2 linked regions of the Homo sapiens genome follow. The protein of the gene in region 1 interacts with the protein of each later gene in a pairwise test. Each region holds a gene or a part of one and is shown on either strand. Other genes may lie near its edges.

Region 1 (7,769 bases):
CATGTGAGGATCTCCTCAGAGGCCACAGTTCGGGGTCCATAACACCTGCTTTATAAAGGGAAAAGGAACATTGTGAATCTGGCTCTTGAAGCACCTCAGCATGTGGGAGTCGTGAGGGGAGAGAGGGTTTCGCGTCCAAGCAGGATTCGAGGTGCAGTGCAGCTACAGAGCAGCTCGGGGGAGTGGCTACAGCGTGCAGGGGGTGCCCCTCATGGCACAGAAGGTGCCAAGGAAGCAGGAAGGCTATGGGACCCAGGCAAAAGGCACTGGGGGGTGTGACAGCGCCTGGCTTGAGCCGTCCCAGCACTGCCTCTTACCAGCATGTGCCCTCCCTCACATATGGCAGACACTTGGTCTCTCTGAGCCTCAGCTTCCCCATCTGTACATTAGGGCTGGTGGCAACAATGCTCATCTCCCAGTTAGGTGAGGGTGAAGGGAAATGTGTGCACTGGCCCCTCGGCATAGGACTCATGGGATGATGGCGGCAGAGAGTGGGGAGGACGTGGAGAGAAGAGGGGGACAAACAAGGCACCAAGCACCTGGCACTCCACCTGTCCCCAGACAATGAAGTGACTCTGGCTCCATCTGACCTTTGCCCTCTGCAGAGGTCACACTTCCCTGGCCGCCCTCTCCCATGTCGTTAATTCTCCCACATCATCACCTACTAGGCCTGGGCAAAATAAAGGGTCCTGCTTGCTTCTCAAGGTCCCTTCTGTTCCCTCCATGCTCACTCCCCTCTGCAACGTTCTAATGTCAAAGCTCGTGCCCTTAAACTACAGCACCCACAATTCTTTCTTGTTATTGACCCTTACGCACCCATCATTCCTTGAAAACCATAACCGCTGCATCACTGCAACCCTCTCCATCATTGTTGTGATAGCTTACAGTCATCTCCATAGCCAGATGCGACCCTTCCAGCCTCTGGTTCGTTGACCTCCTCTTCCTCAGTGACTGTGCGACCCATCCTCTCAAGGTCACACCCTAGACCTCATCCTTACCAGTGGCTGCAACCTCTGCATCATCTCAATCCCAAGTATCCCACTTGCCCACCCCCACCGCCTATCTGACCGGCTCACTCTATTTCCCCAACGCCCTTATTTTCAGCCCCTCTCATAGCACAGCCCCTTAACCCTAATTCTTTCTCATTGTCCCCCACTCCCCTCATACCCTCACCTCTCTTCTTATCACCATTAACGTCACTTTTTACTCAACACTCAACTCCCTCATCTGCTTCATCATACTGTTTAACCTGTTTAAATACAGCTCTCCAATACAGCTGGGCCAATCCTAGCCCAGCACCTGAGTAGCTGCATGTGGCTGGATAAAAACACACAATCGTGACAGCTGGTCTCACTCCAGATTCACTGCTGACCTCAAGCCGGCCCTAGAGCTGCCCAGAATCCCACGGCACTCCCCCTGCCATTCACTCCATGACTCTCCCAGGCAATGTTTTAGCATCTTCTCCCGTCAGACCTCCACACCTCCCCCAATCCTCTCTCAGCTGATGGCCTTGCTTCCTGTTCCCTGAGAACACAGAGGCCACCAGCAGAGAACCCCCGACAACCCCCCCACCGCCACACACACACACACCACCTACTTCCTGCATGGGAGCCCAAGCACTCTGCCTCCCCTTCTGCTATCAGGCACTGTCCTCGCTTGGGGCTGAGGTCAATCCCTCCTCTCTCTCCTGCATCGATTTTTTTTTCCCTCTCTACTGGATCATTTCCATCAGCACACAAACTGCTCTAATTTCTTCTGTCTTGAAAAGCCAAAAAAGCAAACCAAAAAACCACTCTTGACCCCACATCACTCACTAGCTACCATCCATTTTCTTGAAAGCCCTGTCTATATTCACTATTAATATCCACAGTTCTTCTTGTCCCCTTCTCTCTTGAAACCACTCCAAACAGGCTTTCTCCTTTACCTTGCCACCTAACTACTCTCGTCAAGGTCACGGATGACCTCCCTGGAGCTGAATCCAATTCTCTGTGCTCATCTTACTTGACCTGTCAGTGGCATCTGACAGCTGATGGCGCCCTCCCCCAGTCCTGGAGGCTGTCTCCACTTGGTGGACTCTCTCACTGTCCTCCCAGTCTCCTTGGCTGTGCCTCTGGGCCCTCCCCTCCTGCACCATCCCCACTCTCAGTAATCTCAGCCAGTCTTCACAAGCATTCCTACTCTGACAATTCCCAAGTGTTCCTTTCAAATTTGCTCACTTCCCTTGAAGGCCAGACTCGACTACCCAACCATCCGCTTGACGTTTCCACATGGATGTCTGAAAACCATCTCAAATTCAACAAATCCACAAAGCAAACTCCTCCCATCTCCCCCGATCCTGCTTCACCCTTAGAAGTCCCCGTCTCGGCAACCATAAACTCATCCTTCCGGTTGCTCAGGCCAAAAGCCGTGGGGTCACCCTTGATTCTGTGCTCTCTATCTATCTGAAAGTCCTTTCCACCATGCCTTCAAATTCTATCCAGAACCAACCACTTCTCCCCATCTCCACCGTAGGCTACCTCCAGGGTCCAAGCCGTCATCATCTCTCACTTGGACTATTCCAACAGCCCCCTGACTGGTCCATGCTGCTGATCTTACCTCCCTGCAACTGATTCTTAATCCAGTGGGCCAGGTGACTCTTCACAACTAAGACAGCAGCATCCCATGCCTCTCCTGCAAACCCTTCAAATGGCCTGTTGCTCTCACTGAAGCCAAAGTCTTTCTAGAGGCCTTCGAGACTTGACACAATCCAACCCCCCAACCCGTTGGTCCTCACTACCACCTAACTCCTCTCTCACTGCCAGGCAGACATCCTGGCCTCCTTGCCAGGAAAGCACCAATGCCTTTGTACTTGCTGTGCCCTCTACCAAGAATGCTGCTCTCCAGACATGCACACAGCTCAGCCTCTGCCCTTCACAGTGACACCTTCCCTGACCACACTCGTCCCTGCACTCTCTACTCTACCTTCACAGCTATCTCCAACATCCAGCTCCTAACAGGCGCTCAGTCACTGCTTGCTGGATGGACAAATGAATCAAGTCAGATCTCCAGCTAGCAAGGGCTGTATGAGCAAAAAGGGCCATCCTGTACCTTGTTTACTCAAGAAAGCAGGCTGACCATCTTCAAGAACGGGAGTATGATGGGAAAATCTCAGCAAAAGGACTCACCCCTCTTCTGAACTCAGAAAAGGCAGCCCAGCCAGGGAAAGCATGGGAGGCAGACACAGTAGCTGCTGCCTCAGCCTAAGTTACTTACCCTTTGTGAGTACAGGTGCTCTCATCTCTCACATGGGACTAACCAGGTCTACTAGCCAGAGTTATCACAAGGATTGAGTTGGTTAACGTTCCCAGGACAGGCCCAGCACATAGTAGGGACTTAATCAATGGCAGTTGTTGTGGATACTATCATTACTGTTTATGATGAATGGCCTCATGGCCTTAACCACACCTAGCCACTTTGGTGATCAAGAGCACTGGCCCAGGAGTCGAAAAATCCCAGGGCCAGCCCTCCAGTGAGTCACTCTCCCCATGGGCCTCAGTTTCCCCATCTGAACTACAAGGAGTAGAAAAGATGATCTCATATGACCCTTCCAGCTCTAAAATACGTGATTCTGATTCATAACTGGAGGATAACTCACATCAGCAGGTAGCTCCGAGCTGGCTGCCTTAGCCAGGTCCCCGTTGAAGGCCAGGTCGGAAGGAAGGCTCCTGTGAGGGACGAGGACAGGAAATGGAAGCACGGAATGTTAGAGTCTGTCACAGAATGGAAAATGTGGGAGAGTCTCCCAGTGCAACTTTAACAGCACCCAAAGGTTAAACCCTCCTAGCCATTTACTCTTGAGCCCTGCCTGCAACTATTAGGGACACAGAATCTGTCCATTTTCCATTCGGCAAGTGCCCCAGAAAACAGTGCTTATTCCCTACCTGAGCATGAAGGGTTAAATTCCCCAGCTACTTTAGGAAAAGCATCCTGGATGCCCAGACCTCTCAACAGCTCCTAAAAAGATAACTCCTCTTTCCTTTAACCCATAAGGAGTTAAAGTTCTCCTCTAGCCAGGAAGAGTGCAGCTGGTCCTGCTGCCCTGCCAATACTTCTTGAAGAATTGCAGTGGGGGAGGGGAAGAGGAAAGAGTGATTTTCCAGGGTTGAAGTTGTTCTTAAGCCCTACTTGGAGTGAGGGAGAGAAGGAAGATGGCGGGTGGAACCCAGCCTGGGCAAGAGTGTGACCTCACAGCACCCTGGTCTGGGACAGGCAAAGGACTAGCTCTGGGGCCAAGGCTCCAGACACTTTCAGGTGAGAGAAGGGCAAGGCCAGAGGGCAGGGCAGGGCAGGGACCCTCAGCTTCCCGCTTAGCCCAGACCACACCAGCTCTTGCCTTCATAGCAGTAGGAAGAGAAAGGGAGCCTCTGAGCCCAGCAGAGCTGTTAAAGGCCCAAGGAGCCAGCCATACCTCAAGCTGGCTCTCCCAGCACTAAGGACAGCCTCTGTGCAGCTGATGGCTCCTGAGATGCCTCAGCCTCTTCCTCCAAAGTCCCGTGCCCAGCACCCCAAGAAGCACCTCCTGGCCAGCCTTGCTTTACACTAGTGGCAACTCTGGAGAAGCGTATCATATGCAAATATCTCCAACCAGCCAAAATCTCTGTGCAGACACTAGCTGGCCTGGCATCAAGATGTGTTCCTCTCGCAGGGCGCAGTGGCTCACGCCTGTAATCCCAGCACTTTGGGAGGCCGAGGCAGGCAGATCACGAGGTCAGGAGATCGAGACCATCCTGGCTAACACAGTGAAACCCCATCTCTACTAAAAATACAAAAAAATTATCCGGGTGTGGTGGCAGGCGCCTGTAGTCCCAGCTACTCGGGAGGCTGAGACAGGAGAATGGCGTGAACCCAGGAGGTGGAGCTTGCAGTGAGCCGAGATTGCGCCACTGCACTCCAGCCTGGATGACAGAGCGAGACTCCGTCTCAAAAAAAAAAAAAAAAAAAAAGATGTGTTCCTCTCTTACCTCTCCCATCAGATTCCACCTCACAGGCAGAGACTGTGCCCTACTCATCCTGACACACGCAGCCCCACCCCAGGACTGGCACACTGCTCTGACCACTGTAAGAGCTGGCACTTAAGAGCAGAGGATTTGGAATCAAACAAACATCTGTCTCTGCCTCTTAACTTGCCGAGACTATGGAGTCATTTTTGAGCCTCAGTTTCCTCATCTCTACAATGGATCTAATACTCCCTTGAACAAACAGGATGCCAACGAGGCAAAGTTTGGTGCCCAGCTCTCAGTATATAGAAACTAAACTTCTTGGCCGGGCGTGGTGGCTCATGCCTGTAATCTCAGCACTTTGGGAGGCCGAAGCAGGCAGATCACCTGAGGTCAGGAGTTCAAGACCAGCCTGGCCAACAGGGTGAAACCCCAACTCTACTAAAAATACAAAAAAATTAGCTGGGCGTGGTGGCCCACGCCTGTAATCCCAGCTACTCAGGAGGCTGAGGAAGGAGAATCACTTGAACCTGGGAGGCAGAGGTTGCAGTGAGCCGAGATCGCACCACTGCACTCCAGCCTGGGTGACAAGAGCAAAACACCATCTCAAAAAAAAAAAAAAAAAAAGTCTATTGTCTATTAAACTTCTATACTGTACATTTGAACTCTCTAACATAAACCTGCATCAACTCTGTAAAGAAAACTACAACTTTAAAAGCATACAGTAATGATAACACCATCTGCTGGGGAATGATTTGTGACCTAGATCGGGATCTGCCTGTACTCACAGCACACAACCAACCTACAGGTAAAAGTCACAACCCTATATGGGGCCATGCACTTGGTCCCCAGCCCCCACCCAATCCCACCCCACCTGACCTCCAGGCTGCCACAAAATATACAACCTCCCACCCTTCACCTCTCCTCAGGGGTCTTGCTGTGCTCTTCCCGGCACTCTGCTGGAGACTTTACTGGCCCCTCCTGGGACCATCCCCTGAAGAGGGTGCTGCCATCCTCATCCCTGGGAGCAGTGGTCGTGCCATAGGTCCTGGGGCCATATCGCGAGCTGCCATCGTGGTTAAAGGTGAGGCGGGAACCCCACAGGCGGTCGGGGCTGGCAAGGACCTCCTTCCGAGGCTGCTCCATCTTGGCCAGGATCTCTTCCACCGTGGTGGCCGCGAAGCGCTCTGAGGCTGGGCGGAAAGGGGCAGGGGCCTTCCGTACACCCCCTGGGGCTGCACATCGAGCTGGGGGTGTCAAAGGGGGTGGCTCCTCTTTCCCAGCCTCCTCTTTCCCAGTCTCTTGGGTGGCTTCTCCTCCAGTGGAGGCCTCAACCGCAGGCCTTGGTGCAAAGGGAAGGGGGCGCTTGCTGCCACCATAGGGCTGGGGTCCTGCCAGCATGTTCATCTTCCTGGCAGAAGGCAACTCAGCCAGGGGACCCCGGGGAGGCCGAGGCCCAACAGGCACCAGCAGGCTGGGTTTGGCAGGCAGGGCTGGCTTGGCAGGCAGGGCCCGGGGTTTGGGCTTGACAGGGGGTTTGGCCCGAGTGTCACCTACCAAAAGGAAAGGGTTGGTGGGGGAGCTGTCAGAAGAACCAGGAAGCAGAACTTCTTTGTTTCCTGTTCCACCTCATCTCCCACCCTCCGATTTAAGAATATTCACATCTTTCTAGGCACAAGTCATATGCCACCTCTTCCATGAAGCCTTCCTTGATTTTCTACACACATCCCCAAAGCATCTTCTCCCTTCTTCAAACTCCCAAAATGTTTTAGCCAATTCCCCTTTTAAGCTGAAGCTATTTAAGGACCCACCTGGCACCTTACTTCTTCCTGTACTGTATTTTGCCCCTAGCATAAGTTATAATTAAACAAAAGAATGAATGAACAAATGAGCCAATAAACAAATGCCTGCCTGTCCCTATCAAGCAGTCAGCCCCCCCATATTCCCAATCTAGTTTTTTCACCTTATGTGACACTCTTCTCTATCATCCATAGTAAACTTTCAATCTCAGCTGAGCTTCTCTATCCTGCCTCCAGGCTGCCTCCTCCCCCACCCACAGCACACTCCCAGGCCACCTCCCCACTGTCATCTGGTGTGTGACTGGGAATGCAAACTTACTATTGACCCAAGTCAAACAAAAGTAAATCTGCTATGGGAAGAAAAAAAAAAACAGGACCAGAAATCTACCTTCTATATAAAGCTAAATGACCTTGGAAGTACCCTCGTCCACAGTCCTCCTGATGGAATCCCGTACCTCCTACACATTTGGCTAAATAGAAGAAAAGAGTCTACACAAGGAGCCAGGAGGTCTGGGTTCAAACTCCCACTTGTACACTCCATTTTTCCCTGTGGGCCTCAGTTTTCCCCTCTGCAAAGCATGCAGCTTGATCCATATCATCTCAAAGGTCCCTGTCTGCTCTTACACCTGTTGGAGATTTATGATCCCAAACAGTTCTGAAGAGTCTCAAGAGAAGCTGAGAACCTTTCAAACTCATCCTGTACTGCCTTGGTACTCCTTCCCTATCTCAACAGAATCATCACTCAACCACCCCCCAAGACAGAAAGAGGGGGCAGCCTCTGTCCTTCCCACCCCCCTCCCAGCCACCTGGCTCCACCCTGCACCCATTGGTACCTGGCTCAGAGCCAGTAGGCACCAGCTCCTCCTCCATCTCCCGGGGCAGTGGGGAAGCCATGGCTGAGCTTTCCCTGAGAGTAGACACTTTCATCACATGCGGCAGACCCTCCTTGAGAGCGGGGAGGCAGAGAGGTATGAGCTGGGGTGGCTGCAGACCT
Region 2 (9,625 bases), on another chromosome or scaffold:
CGTTTTTCGAAATGTCTTTTTTTTAATCACAAGAGTAATAATTTTCATGATATCTAATTTCATTTTAAAATTAAATGAAAATTCTAAGTGTTTGGATATGAAGATTAAACCAGTCACAGAATAGTACTACATTAATAGATTTTGGCTGGGCACTGTGGCTCATGCCTGTAATCCCAGCACATTGGGAGGCCAAGGCGGGCAGATCTGTTGAGGCCAGGAGTTCAAGATTAGCTTGGCCAGCATGGTGAAACCCCATCTCTACTAAAAACACAAAAATTAGCCAGGTCGTGGTAGCGCACTCCTGTAATCCCAGCTACTTAGGAGGCTGAGGCACGAGAATCGCTTGAACCTGGGATGCGGAGTTTACATACAGTGAGCCAAGATTTTGCCATTGCACTCCAGCCTAGGAGACAGAGCAAGACCCTGTCTCAAAAAAAGAGATAGTTAATTTTTAAAGGGTAAATCACAATTAGACTTTATATATATTTTGAGCAATATAAAGGCCTTTTGTTTGTGAGTTTTGGGCTTTTTTTAAGTTAAGAGGATTCAGAACAAGTCTTTTTTTTTTTTAGTATTTGGAAATGTGGGATATATAGCCTCTTCATGGTTCTATTTGCATTTTAATAACACTACAAAATATTATAATATGCAGTACATTTTTGTGTCTTTCAGAGGTAATAATTTTAAAACCAACCCACTCTAGAGCTGCAATATCAGCTTGTTTTAAGAGGCATTGTGTCAGTGTTATGAATAACATTTTTACTATCAGGTTGCATGTTGGTGTTTAAGTGAAAGGAGTACCTAAGGTTTTCTACAAAACTTAAAGCTAGATAGATTTATTTTATACTTGGCCTTTCCTAGTGTATAATTAATTATTCCCTTCTGATGTTAAAAACACCATTTTCTAATTCTTCATAGTAATCCCTTTTGAATATGAGTGAACATAATCTTGAAGAAAAGATTTTCTAATATTGCACAGCTACATTTCTATTAAGAAAAGGAACAATAGAAACAAATTTTCATTAATTGCTGAATTCTCAAAGTAATCTGTTCTTGGGTTTTCTTTATTGAAAAACTAGTGTGGACTTTTCTTGTGAGGTATGGTGCTTCTCTGAGTAGGATCTGAGTGCTGAAAAAAAGTTACTGTTAAAAATGCATTTTACTTCTGATGCATAGAGGGATGTGTATAATACTTTGTGGTGGCTAAGGGTGATTTATTGCTTAAAAACATGATAAACTATATGGAAATCAAGCCTAGATAATGAAAAAGGTCCCAGATAGAAACAGAGTATAAGAGATGAGTGGTAATAACACTTAGGTAGTTTTTACTTCTGTTTAAAAATTGCTGGTTCATTCTCAGGCACTGGCAGGGATATAAAGAGTTTTGGCTATATTATAAAAATTGCAATCTCTGATCTTTTTAATGAAATCTCAGTTTACAAAGTCTTAGGAAAAAACTGAATGAAGCAAATGGCAGTCTGCCTCTTTCGCCTTACTTCCAAATGACATTTCAAATACTGAGAAGCATAGTAAGGTAAATTCAGGGTGCTTACTTCACAGTGTAGTGGCTTGGAAATGATGCTGGGTCATTTCCAAGATAAATACTCAGAAAGTACAAAAGTCAACTCAAATTGAAATTTAGCTCCCAGTGTACAAAATGGTCACCAGTCAGACCCCCCAGGGGACTGAACTGAGTTTCTCTTAATACCTTTTCCATCATCTGAAACAGAACCAACTTCAATCAAGTGTCACTTCACTTTGAATTCCTCACGTCTTATTTAAATAAGTGATTCTCAACCATGTCTGTTCATTATAATCACCTGGGATGCTGGGATCCTTTTTAAAAATACGAATAGCTAGACTCTTAATATTTCAACTTAATTAGTCTGGAGTCAGACCCTTACTTCAGCATTTTTCTTTATAAGGTCTACAAAGTGATTCTACTAGGCAGCCAAGATGGAGAATTACTGATAAAAATCAGGGCTTTTCAGACTTTAACATGCAAGTGCATATGAATCACCTGGAGATTTTGTTAAATTGCACATCCTGTCCAAAAGAGGTGTTTATGGGGCCACAGATTCTGCATTTCTAAATTCCCAGGTGATTGATTACTGATGCTGCTGGTCTTCACAGCACAGTTTTGAGTAGCAAGGATGCAAACCATCTTCTACTATTAGTTTGCTCACAGTCTTTTTATAGTTAAAGGACATTTAAAAATGAGCATTTTATTTCAGAAATGAACATTTGATTGACAAAAACGATTCTCTTACAACTAAATTTTGTTAGTCCATACTCTTCTGCTTCAAAGTAATGATAGCAGTAGGAGGCACAAAAAATACTTAGATATTTTGTTAATAAGAGGTAATGAGATTAGAGTTCTTTAATTAAAATGCAACTACAGTTTACTTTTGTTCCACTCATTTAAAGAAGCTTTTCTCAAAGTTATAAGCAAAAAATTAGCAGATTTAAAATTTAAATTTTTTATTAAAATAAATTTCCTTAAAACTCTCAAATATAAGCTGTTAGTCTAATTCTAGACTTAATAAAATAAATTTTGTATGATAGACTCCAATGATGTTTTAGTAGATTAGCAATCTTTATCTTGCCTAGGCATTTTACAATGATGATATGTGGCGTATGTGTGTGTGCTTGTGCAGGTGTACACATGATATTGCTTTAGAAAAAGTTGCCTAATTTTCTCCCGTTTGTCTGTTGTTTTTTCTCCCACTTCTTAGCATCATTCACGGTTATGTGTTACAATGTGTTATGTGATAAATACGCTACCCGGCAGCTATATGGCTATTGCCCATCCTGGGCATTAAACTGGGAATACAGGAAAAAGGGAATTATGGAAGAAATTGTTAACTGTGACGCAGATATCATTAGTCTTCAGGTAACACCATAGAAATTAAACTGTCTTTAACTTAAAAGGTGAACTTAAACATAAGAGAAGATCTGACCACTGGGAGAGATCCTGTGTTTAGAGCCAAAGCTCAAAAAGAATTGTTTTCTCTCCTCTTAAAAATAATGGACAATTTAAATAAGCATTTAAGACATTTCCATAGTGAAACTATTTTGCTGACTGAATACAACCACCTACTTATATTTATTTACTGTTTTCTTAAGTGGAAATAATCTTACCCGTTCATGTTAATATTCACCTCATGATCATTGGTATTGCTGAAAGAGAAAACCACAGAAGATTGCCAGTCTTTTAGGAATATAAATTTACCTTGTATTGGAGTCTGTTTTTTTTTAAAAAAAAAAGCTTGCCCACAGTTATTCCTTAAACAGACATATTTTAATATATTGTACTATAAATCATGCATATTTGCCTTACCTTACTTTATAAACCATCTCTGAAATTTAGATTCTTCTGTTTTATAGCACTTTATAAATTGAACTTTACTGAAGAAGCAGCATCTTTTCATGAAATGTGTTCTGTTGCTTCAAAATTTAGCTAATGATTAGCCAAAAAGATGTTTGAATAGTTTTTAGTAACTTTTTTCTTAGCAACTTTCAAAACATATTAAGTGCTTAAAGGTTTAAAAATTTTTAATTGACAAATAATTGTATATGTTTATGGGGTACATTGTGATGTTTTGATACATATATATTTTTTTAAATGATCAAATGAGGCTAATTAACATATTCATCAACTCAGAAACTTACTATTTCTTAAAGGTGTTTAAAAATGTTGTGTGTTACAGGCCGGGCATGGTGGCTCACGCCTATAGTCCCAGTACTCTGGGAGGCCGAGGCGGGTGGATCCCTTGGGGTCAAGAGTTTGAGACCAGCCTGGCCAGCGTGGTGAAACCCCATATCTACTAAAAATGCAAAAATTAGCCAGGCAAGGTGGCGTGCACCTGTCATCCCAACTACTTGGGAGCCTGAGGCATGAGAATTGCTTGAACCCAGGAAGCAGAGGTTGCAGTGATCAGAGATTGCACCACTGCACTCCAGCCTGGATGGCAGAGCGAGATTCTGTCTCAAAAAAAAAAAAAAAAAAAAAAAAAAAAAAAAAGTTGTGTGTTACAATTTCACACATTCTTTTCATCATAGCCTGAGAGGAAAAATTATTAAAAATTTTTTTATGTAACAGAGTAGCTTGATAATTTATTTTTAGGTTGCTTGGGAAAAAAGTAAAAATCTTTTAAAATTAAAATAAAATTTCTTCTAAATACTGAGACTAACAGAGAATTGGGGAGAGGAGGCGGCAAACAAAATCAGGCTATTGTAGTTTCTTGTCTACTTCTTGGTTTAGTATTTGTAGTGATAACAGCCTCACACCCTCCTAAATATAGCAGTTTGAAGGATAGAACATAATTTAAGAAAATTGTCTTATTATAAAAGCAATGCTATAATACTATACTGTATTAAAAAGAGATCATTCTAGAGAAGTTGAAAATTTTGAAAAAATATAAAGCATGATGGAGGGAAATACCTAATTTCATGTCATAAGATAGTTGTGTTAAAACTTCTGGAGTATTTTTCTTCTATACATTAAGTAAAATATATTTACAGATACATTTTGATTCTTATTTATTGTACTTAATGGATTTTCCATGTTACTAAAATTCTTCAAAACTCATTAATTATATGAACGTATATTGATGTAGCTTTTCCCATACCATTGGACACATTTAGTTGTTTATGGGTTTTTGCTGTCATAAACTCATGCTGTTAGAAACATCTGCATACATAAATTATCTTCATATTTATTTCATTTAGAAAGACCTGTTAAAATATTTTATGAGTCAAAGAATAAAATAGACTAATAATTATTAAATTAATAGAGGCCATTGGATGATTGCGATTTAGGTACTTAAAAATTTCTTAAAGTAGAATTTTTTGTGGATAGATTTTACGTTTCTCACTCTTGGGTATCATTTCTTTCCACCATAGTTCAGAAGGATATGCAAGTTTTTAAATTACCTTTTTATATATAAATTACTATTCCCTATCACAGAATCTATCATATACCCAACTTGCTTTGTTTAGTTGCCAGTCTTGAGGAAGTAAAGTATAATGGAGTGAACTGTAAATTGGGAATCAAGAGACCTTGGGATGTAGTCCTACTCCTGTTACTATCTGTGTGAGCATGAGAAAATCATGTCACCTTTCTGGTTCTTTCATGTTTAAAAAGCTGCCATTGTCAAGTAGCAGCTGCTAGCAATCAGGTAAGATAGTAAGATAATATTTGCTATGTGAATTATTTTTACTAAGTTACATCTTACTCATAATGCTGAACATTTTTATATCTTAATCAGCATTTTCCCTCTGTCATATAGATGATAACTTTTCTTTCATCTCAGGAAGTGGAAACAGAGCAATACTTCACTCTCTTTCTGCCAGCATTGAAGGAGCGTGGATATGATGGATTTTTTTCTCCAAAGTCACGTGCCAAAATCATGTCTGAGCAGGAGAGAAAGCATGTAGATGGTTGTGCAATATTCTTCAAAACAGAAAAGTAAGTTAAGGAAACAAAGCACAATGGTGTACTTTTATTTATTTAAATGCTTACACTTTAAAATTGTCTTTGGTTTTGCCCTATAAAATCAACAGAAAGCTAGAAAACAAGTATTATGCAACTTAAAACTGTTGTTAATGTTTCATTTCTCAGGCTGTGTATTCGAAATAAGGATATTTATTGTATTATTCCTTATGCTTTTATTACCAAATAACACTGAACATTTTAAGAGATACAGACTTGAATGGTCTCATATTTCAGAACATATTTTCATGAAGTAAAGTATTAGTTTTTGTGTAAAAAAAGAAAGTGATACCTTTTAAGGTTGGCCATAAGTGATCTGGGTTTCTTTTCTGTGATTTTTTTTTAATAATTGATTTTTGAGAATCATTCATTTTAAAATCATTTATTCACTAAATGTATACTGAGCATTTGCTTTGTGATAAGTCCTGTGCTAGACACAACAGACACAAAGATAGTCAAGACATAGTTCCTAATCTCACTGAAAGCTCAAATCCAGTAGGAAAAACTAGGCATATAAGACAATTGCAATATCATATGGTGTAATATAAGATAGAGGTCTGCCTGGGTAGATAAGAGAGGCAGGCACAGAGCATATGGAGGTAGAGAGTTAAAAGGGTTGACTGAGACAGGGCAATGGAAAATGAAACGTGACATCTGATAGAGGTTGAATCCCATGGTTAATAGTTTGGATTTCATACGTTAGGAAATCATCTTACAGGATAAGCATATACATGCTTACAGCTGTTTTCCAGTATTTCCCCATTTTACATCTATTTTACCAAAGCCAATCTGTTTTTATTGATCCAAGCATATTACCAGCATGACATGCTATTTTAAGTAAACAAATTCAATGAATTTGAAAGATATTTGGTCCACTTCCCATTTATCTATGCCTACTTTCCTGTCTTTTCCATGAATTTGTAGTAGAGATATTCTTATTTTGGTTAATAATTAGTACAAAGCCTTGTAGTATTTGAGGTCAGAATATACTAAATTCTTCTAATGGTTTGGTAATTTTTTATGCATTTTAGAATAATTCTATTAAAACTACGTATCTCTTAACTACGGGAATATGTTCTGAGAAATGCATCATTAGGTGATTTTGTTGTTGTGGGAACATCATGAAGTGCACTTACACAAACCTAGATGGTACAGCACTATACACCTAGGCTATAAGGTATAGCCTGTTGTTCCCAGGCTAGAAACCTGTACAGCATGTTACTGTAGTAAATAGACAATTGTAATACAATGGCATTTGAGTCTAAACATATCTAGACGTAAAAAAGGTAATGTATTGTGCTGTGATGTTAAGACACCTACATCATCACTGGGTGATAGGAATTTTTCAGCTCCATTATAGTCTTGTGGGACTACCATCGGCATGTAGTCCCTTGTTGACTGAAATCTTGTTATATGGTATATGACCGTACTTCCAGAGTGTTTGCCATCTGTCAGCCTTTTCGAATTGTTTATATTAGTTGTCTTGTTCAAATTTTAAAGCAACTCTTACAGGCAGCTATACAGCTATTTCCTTGTTTTTAAAGATGAGGAAACCAAGGTACAGACAAGTTCAATAACTAGTTCCAGTTACACAGTCTGATTTCATAGTCCATGCTTTTAACTACTGTAATAAACTGAATCTTTAGCCTTCTTGTTTGAGCTTTTGATATCACTAATACCTCTTATAAGATTACCTCATTTAGAAAAATTGCCCTGAATTTGACATTTGTTTTTGTTTTTAGACAGGGTCTCAGAGTCTTACTCTGTCACCCAGGCTGGAGTGCAGTGGCGATCATGGCTCACTGCAGCCTCAACCTCCCCAGGCTCAGGTGATTCTGTCACCTCAGCACCCTGAGTAGCTGAGACTACACGTGCATGCCACCACACCTAACTAATTTTTGTATTTTTTGTAGAGATGGGGTCTTGCTGTGTTGCCCTAGGCTGGTTTTGAACTCCTGGGTCCAAGCAATCCACCCGCCTCAGCCTCCCACAGTGCTGGGATTACAGACGTAAGCCACCGTGCCTGACGATATTTGTTACCTATGTTCATACACAAATCCCCTTGAAACACCATAGCTTAAAAAAAAAATGCACCAGTAAACTTGAGACATCTAACATCAGGCTCTTTTTCTATTTGCTATAGTTTCTTTCAAGATAATATGGAAGATTTTTATTATTACTCTCACAGTTTTGAGAGGAAAAATCTAAAATTCCTTAACAATTTACTAGAAGTAGTTAAGGCTTTGAAATAACAGTTAGAACTGTTATCTGGGTATTTGCAAATTGATTCTTGAATTATTAAAAATGCTGTGAACTAGTTAAGTAATGAGCACATAGGAAGTACTTAGATGTGTCACCTGTTTTTCTTTTCTTCCTCAACTCTTTTTTCCTGAATAGTAACATGGATCTGGCAACAGATTGAATGTGATACATCAGTATATTGTACCTCTTTTCAACTTCTTTCCTGGAATGACAGGACTATATACCTCCTATAGGTAGAACAAAACCACCTTCTGTCCCAGTACCAGATATTTATCCATGTCTTAGCTGACTATTCAGTGCCAACTATTTGGAATTTAAAGTATTATACCCTGCCTTTATTCTTTCTTCAGACTGGAAATATAGGGCAAAAAAAGACTGTGAGTTTTGAAGCCAGGTGCTTCTTCTATTTATTTAGCTATATAATGTTGAAAGACTTAGCATTTCTGGACCTGTTTCTTCATTTGTATATTCTTATCTTGTAAGATCATTTTTGTAGAGGTTACAAAACTAACAAAGATAACTGTGGAAGAGTAGTCAACACTGTACTTACTCTCAGTCTCTTTCTTCTGTAATCAGAGTATCTGATAATTCCTCATCTTCACTGATGACTGTTTAATCATACATGAAAAACTGGTACAGAATACGCAACAATAAATGGAAACTATCATAATTGCCATTTATAGCAAAATACTATAATAAAAATCTCTAATCCATCATGATGAAAGGATAGAGTATTGTTTAGTAAAGGCTAGGACACAAGTTACCAATATTCAGATAATTAGAATATAATACACTGTTCTTTAAATCACATTATTCTAGTTTAGTTTTGGGGGATTCAGAATCTACTTCAGGATTTGGCAGCACCTGTTTGGTCATCATTATGAACATCATTTTTTGGGAGTTAGATGCATAGAGATACTAGAAAATAGAACTTTGAGTGATAAAATACCAGATCTCAGCTTTTGCTTTGTCTTTTAACAAGTATTATTTACGTTCCAAAGCATTTTATAAAATACATTCATACATATGCATATGTTTCTTATATGTATATAATGTATATGTAGAAACTGAGTTGTAAATACATTTTTTTTTTTTTTTTTTGAGACGGAGTTTCACTCTTGTTGCCCAGGCTGGAGTGCAGTGGCGTGATCTTGGCCCACTGCAACCTCCGCCTCCCAGGTTCAAGCAATTCTCCTGCCTTAGCCTCCTGAGTAGCTGGGATTACAGGCATGCGCCACCATGCCTGACTAATTTTGTGTTTTTAGTAGAGACAGGGTTTCTCCATGTTGGTCAGGCTGGTCTCAAACTCCCGACCTCAGGTGATCTGCCCTCCTTGGCCGCCCAAAATGCTGGGATTACAGGCGTGAGCAACCGCGCCTGGCCGTAGATACATGCTTTAGACTCATAATTTAAATTTCTTTTTGCCATGTTTTGTCCTATAGACTTAACCATTAAGTAGAATTGGGTCTTGGAGCCAGATACACAACTTAATAGTGGGGGAAAATATGAAGATGAAAGCAGACCTATATGCTAGACTTGCTGTTCCTGAGGTTAGCAGTTCTGACCTCCTTATCATGCTTTATTTCAAGTCAATGAGAAAGGGAAAGATGAAAACAGCAATTTAGAACAGTGTGATCATTGCACTGTGAAGAGGCAATCTCTTATCATAGGATTGGGAACTTAGGTTGTCATGGCACTTAGTTCTTGCTGTACTTCCTAACCTGCTTCCATTCTCAGAGGTACCAGGTAAGGCCAAGTCCTTGCTTTTTTTTCTTCTATTATCACAGGTAGTTTTGTGCTTGGAAGGAGGGTTTTCAGAGGTCATAGTATCATTCCAAAATGGTACAGTATCATTACTGTTGTGATACT

Evidence for each region.
Region 2: the proteins of TNKS1BP1 (region 1) and CNOT6L interact in binary tests that used the Homo sapiens proteins (3 or more experiments, as listed by UniProt).

Annotation. Positions count from the first base shown.
Region 1 is NC_000011.10:57,314,184-57,321,952, forward strand, and holds part of TNKS1BP1 (182 kDa tankyrase-1-binding protein), read right to left. Parts: intron 7,768-7,769; 5' UTR 7,703-7,767; coding exon 7,609-7,702; intron 6,530-7,608; coding exon 5,896-6,529; intron 3,705-5,895; coding exon 3,635-3,704; intron 1-3,634.
Region 2 is NC_000004.12:77,737,986-77,747,610, reverse strand, and holds part of CNOT6L (CCR4-NOT transcription complex subunit 6-like), read left to right. Parts: intron 1-2,735; coding exon 2,736-2,893; intron 2,894-5,291; coding exon of another isoform or gene 5,292-5,315; coding exon 5,316-5,470; intron 5,471-7,407; coding exon of another isoform or gene 7,408-7,503; intron 7,504-9,625. UniProt on the Homo sapiens protein: Has 3'-5' poly(A) exoribonuclease activity for synthetic poly(A) RNA substrate.